Regions from separate parts of the Homo sapiens genome. Here region 1 is linked to region 2. Evidence: fine-mapped expression QTL. A gene starts in region 2. The other region holds a variant in brackets. All regions are shown on one strand. Distances are from middle to middle.

Region 1 (2,906 bases), 53 kb before region 2:
ATAGATTGGGAAAGCCAAGGTACAGAGAGAAGGCAAAAGCCAAGCACCAACCTCCTGGGAATGTTTAGAGAGAGGATGGGATGGAAGAAAATCCAGCAAAGATAAGGAAGTGTTGTTCGGGAATATATACAGCAAACATAAAATATCACCCTATAATTTACAAACTCTCCCATATATGCAGCATTGGGTAAGACAGGCATTGTTTCTCCCATTTTGCACACTTCAGAGATATGATGATGATGATGATGATGATGATGATGATGATGATGATGATATAAAAGTAAGACAAAAATCAAGCTGGTCACAGAAACTAGGAGTCAAGAAATGGTAAGAATAAGGGTTAATCTGTCTGGGTCCAATCAGGAGACAGAAACCACTCAGTAATTTGAACAGAAGAAGTTGAATATAAATTGCTAAACTAGGACAGAGGAGTAACTAAAAAAGATGGAAAGAGGACTGGTGGCTGGGCATAGTGGCTCACACCTATAATCCCAGCGTTTTGGGAGGCCAAGGTGGGAGAATCACTTGAGCCCAGGAGTTCAAGACCAGTCTGGGCAACATGGCAAGACCCTGTCTCTACAAAAATTAAAAAATTAGCCAAGTGTGGTGGCTGTGGTCCCAGCTACTCAAGAGGCTGTGGTCGGAGGATCTCTTGGGCCTGGGATCTCCTGGGCCAGCTACTCAGGAGGCTGAGGTGGGAGGATCTCTTGGGCCTGGGATGTGGAGGTTCCAGTGAGCCATGATCACAGTCACTGCATTCAACCCTGGGTGACAGAGTGAGACCCGGTGAAAGAGAAGAAAGGAAGAAAGAAAGAGAGAAAGAAAGAAGAAAGAAAGAAAGAAAGAAAGAAAGAAAGAAAGAAAGAAAGAAAGAAGGAAGGAAGGAAAGAAAGAACGAGAGAGGGAAGGAAGGGGAAAGAGAAAGAGAAAAAGGGAAAGGGAGAAAGAAAGAAAGAGAGAGAGAGAGAAAGAGAGAAAGAAAGGAAGGAAAGAAACTGGAAAGCGTGTCTTAGGGGTAATAGAGAGTACCCAAGGAGGCCGGGCTCAGTGGCTCACGCCTGTAATCCCAGCACTTTGGGAGGCCAAGGCGGGCGGATCACGAGGTCAGGACATCGAGAGTATCCTGGCTAACATGGTGAAACCCCGTCTCTGCTAAAAATACAAAAAATTAGCCGGGCGTGGTGGCGGGCGCCTGTAGTCCCAGCTACTCGGGAGGCTGAGCCAGGAGAATGGCGTGAACCTGGGAGGCGGAGCTTGCAGTGAGCCGAGATGGCGCCACTGCACTCTAGCCTGGGAGACAGAGCAAGACTCCGTCTCAAAAAAAAAAAAGAAAGAAAAAAAGAGAGAAAGAGAGTACCCAAGGAAAGGAAAACCTGGAGGTAAGTCCACCCACACGGGTGAGGTTTAGACTTCATTAGAGAAAGTATGGATGCAGCCCACTTTATGCAGAGAAGTCAGCTGGGCTGCCTGCGCCAGA[G/A]CTGGTCCACAGCCACCAGGCAGCAGGAAACAGCCCTCCAGGGCACAGATGAGCCAAGGCCGGTGGGCAGGTGCACAGAGAGAGTTGGGGTGTCACTGCCAACGTGAGGTCTGGAACATGCCAGTGTCCTTGTCAGGAGCGTCATGATGAAGTGGTTCACTAGGCCTGGGCTGGGCTGCATACAAATCACCAAGGGAGCGGAGTGGCTGCAGCGGAGTGCCACTGGATATACCGGTTCACACAACGTGGGCTGAAACCAAGAGCGCCTCTTTCCTCCCGCAGTGTCTCTTTATCGCCCTCTGCTGGCAAGTCTGAAAATTGTGCTCACTACGAGGGACAAATGCTTTTAGCCTATTGATAGAGGATACAGGAGCTAAGAGGAAATAAATTGACAATTGAAACAAGTGGTTATTCGACATTTTCAAGGGTACCTGTGTATCGCTGAGCTTTTTCAGAGCAAGTAACAGAAATCAGCGAAGCTGGACTTGGTGGACTGAGAGAGGGCTAGGAAAGAGTGGACAGAGGAAATAAAGAGAGGTACTGACAGTAGTGATAGTCATCATTGTAGTAATAGTAGTAGTGATGGTGTAGGTTAACATGGCAACATCAGAGCAACCAGAGAGAAAGTGAGAGATTTTGTGCCCCAGCGTCTCCATATAAAATCACAGAAAACAGTAAAAGACTCTGGTGAGCTGAGCCCAGGTCTCCTACTCAAATGGGTCTTTTCCCCTAGCAAGAGATGCTGAGTATTATGATTGAGCAGGCCTGAATCATTTGCTTACTCCTTTGACCAAAGAGATGGGTGACTGATTGGCAGCTATCAGCTCATCATGAGGTAGGAGAGGGAAATTTTCCCAAAGAAAGGCTGTTACTACTGAAAAGGGAACATAGATGAAAAGGTTCTAGGCCAGGTGTGGTGGCTCACACCTGTAATCCCAGCACTTTGGGAGGCCAAGGCAGGTGGATCACCTGAGGTCAGGAGTCCAAGACCAGCCTGACCAATATGGTGAAATGCCATCTCTACTAAAAATACAAAAATTAGCTGGGCGTGGTGGCGTGTGCCTGTAGTCCCAGCTACTCGGGAGGCTAAGACAGGAGAATTGCTTGAACCTGGGAGGCGGTGGTTGCAGTGAGCCGAGATCACACCACTGCACTCCAGCCTGGGCAACAAAGTGAGACTCCATCTCAAAAAAAAAAAAAAAAAAGCTTCTGAAAGGCAGAAACCTCTAATGTCTATCACAGGGTCACAGAGGAAAAATGGGAATAAGGCCAATGCTGAGAAGGCTTTTGTTTGTTGTTGTTTGTTTTACATTTTCAATGTACTATTACATTAATTAATTTGTCCTCTTAAGAGTCAATATTAAACTCCAAGTAGAGCTGGATACAGGAGCAGTGCAAGGCAGACACAAGGTCAAAATGCATCTATGGT
Region 2 (2,870 bases):
AGTCATTATCTATAGCAAATTCATATAAAAATTCATTTATGCAGTTAAGTACATCCCCAAAATCATGATTTTGTTTGTACTTCACACTCACCAGCTTTTTGAAAGGAAATATATCATACATTATTCTACAATATTCCATGGAAGATTCTACTGAGCAAGTCCACAATGATTTAGATATGGGGGCCAAAGGAATGATTCCTTGGGTTCTATTCTTCACCAGCATATCAAACTCGACATGCTGCCTGCAAGATTCTGCCATATAAGGGCAGTGATCCACAACAAACACTGTTTTATGAGATTCAGAAAAAATCTTCATTTTGTTTTAACCTGTAAGGGGAAAAACATATTAGCCAAATATTTGTACATAACATCTTACATTTTTTCTAATTTTCTCAAGAAGATTGTCTTTCCCTCAAGAAGACTTGGTAGGGAACATGAATAATATGTTCAAAGAAATCTGTCCGACAAAGGACAGTTTAATGAGGTCATGACCAGAAAGCAAGGGTATCAATACACCATATTAGGCTGTCACTCTACCAGGCCCAGACAAAAATACCAGTGCATGCATTTTTGGTTTTGCTTTTAAAATGAACTTAAAATTGTCAGAGGGAAACATTTTGACATTTAATTGTATTTGATTCCCTTACATATACGAAACATAAGTGACAAAGACTCTTGAAATACAACTTTATGATCCTTGCTAATTGACATTAGTCACATATAAACCCCAAGCCAGCATTTTTGCACTTCCCTCCAAGAAAAACGTTTGAAGGGGGACTGGCGGGTAGGGGTGCGGAATTAACAGGAAAGAGGAGTGACAGCAAAAGAAAAGGCCAAAACAAAGATAAACATCTCCTAAGATAACCGCACATCAGGTCTTCGCCTTAGGATAAGGACCCCAACTTCACACTCTCCCCTTAGCTTTTGAAACATCACAGTAATTTACCAGGTAGAGCAGAAAAACTTAGTTGTTACCATCACACTGGTGTGTAGAAGGAAATTTAAAACTTTTAAAACTTTTTCTTATTAAAACAGAGCATACGGTACTCCCCTGCTTCGCTAACAAAATCTTATACTGAATAGACAATCCACATTCGAAAAGCACATGGCAAGCAAAGCCAAAGTGTTAAATCAAAACGAACTGATTTCTTACGATCCAGCTATTTTCACCTCTTGCTTTCAAGACGCATCTCCCCTTCATGCAAAACTCTCTTTGAGAAACCTTCTAGACCCACTTTGCTGGAGGGTGGGGGGTGGAAAATACAAGGTGAGTGGATAGGGAAGACCTCAGGATCGAGGTTCGCTTACTTTCGTGCCTGGTCCTGCAGTGAAAACGAACAGAGGCTATGGACCACAGCCTCTCTGGAAAAGGCTGCTGGCTGGGCGGGGAGAGTCAGCGCACAGTCGGGAGTGTCTGGTGCCACAGACAGGGGACTATGCTTTCCCCGATCATCTCCTAGCACACCGGTCCTTCCCAGGCTTCCTAAGAGCAGGAGCGCGCGTGCGCGTGCACACACACACACGCACTCGGGCTCGCGCGTGCGCACAGCGCTCTCCGATAGCCCGGCCAAGCCTCCCTTCCCCCTCGTAGGGCCAGGCGTCCCAGTCGCCGAACAGGAAGAGGGCGGGGCCAAGGAGGAAAAAAAAAGCCTCCACCCCTCGAGATTTTCCACCCGCTAATTTTCCCAGTCACCCATTGGGAAGCAGGATCTGGGCGACCTGAAAGCCTCCCCAACAGCGAAGTACCAACCACGGCCCCCTAAGCGTACGACCCACCCACCCGGTCTCCCCTTCTCTGTCTCTCCACCCAGGCCGGTTTCCCCTGGAAAAACTCGCGAGACTTTGCGAGAGGCCGAGCGAAAGCCTGGGAAGGGAGGAATAGGGAGGGACATAGAAGGGCCCCGCCCTGCCTTCTGGGGCAAAGCGGAGAGTGGTCGGTTCTGCCCCACAGTAACGCGAGGAAAGAAATCTCGCGAGGCTGGAGTTCTCCGGGAGCGCCGGTCGGAGGCGGTCGGCGGAGGTGTCTACCCCGCCGGTGATGGCGTTGAACGCCACTGGCTTCCCGGCCTTCCGTCCGCTGCCTCCGTCCGATTCTGCGTCTGCTTGCTGAGGAGGCGGATTAGGGGGGCGCGGAGTCTCTTCCCTTGAGTGCATAGGTCCCGGTTGGTAGAGGGTTTGAGTCCGCATCGCCACAGCTGAAGGCTGCGAGGGACTAAGAGCAGAGTAAGTGGACTAAATCCAGGGACGGGAGCAGGGGTGGGCGAGTCGGAGGCGTCCTTTGCCGGGGCAGTCCTTCGCCGGGGCCGGTGCCTTGCGCCTCTTGAACCACCGGCGCCCGGCCCTGTCCGCTTCCCGCCGCGGGCTCCCTGCTCCTGGGAGCCGGACTTCCTCTCCGCGCCCCCCGACTCCGAGCTCCTCTTAATGGAGATGCGGTGCGGAAAGTTCAATGAAAAGCCTTGGCTCTAACCCTGTGGACACACCTTCCGTATCTGCTTTCATCCTGCCTTACCCACCTGCGAGTTCACCACCGGACGGGGGACCCTTTCAGTCACCTGTTTGCAGCGTTTAATGAAGATAACTTGTTTCTTGAAACTGCTCTCCAAGGGGTATTACTCTTTTCTGGTTCTCTTCCTGCCTTTCTTCTCTATCCCATCTCTGATAATGGTTCCAGTATCTGTCCTGCTATCCGAACTAGAAAACCAGGAATCATCATTGGTTCTTCATTTCCACTTAACACTGCACTGTATTATTTTTTTTTTCGCCAGAATTAGTGCGGTTGCCCCCTCTGCCCCCCGCCCTCCACTGGTTTCCCTACTATAATCCTTCCATAGAGTTATTCTGAAATACATATTTATCTCTGTCCTTTCCTT

What was found.
Region 1: its variant is fine-mapped to the expression of INTS13 in esophagus mucosa (GTEx, PIP 0.98).

Annotation. Positions count from the first base shown.
Region 1 is chr12:26,883,362-26,886,267 of GRCh38, forward strand. No RefSeq gene overlaps it. Among named protein-coding and RNA genes, the nearest start is that of ITPR2, 52 kb to the left of the region's middle. RefSeq lists a silencer at 1,655-1,829. The variant G/A (reference allele first, on the strand shown) is at 1,478.
Region 2 is chr12:26,936,488-26,939,357 of GRCh38, forward strand. INTS13 (integrator complex subunit 13) reads right to left here and starts at 1,494. Exons shown (of 17, transcript NM_018164.3): 1 at 1,309-1,494; 2 at 92-327. The coding sequence starts at 316. FGFR1OP2 (FGFR1 oncogene partner 2) reads left to right here and starts at 1,983. Exons shown (of 7, transcript NM_015633.3): 1 at 1,983-2,223. RefSeq lists enhancers at 1,799-2,308, 2,037-2,086, 2,309-2,817 and a silencer at 2,347-2,416.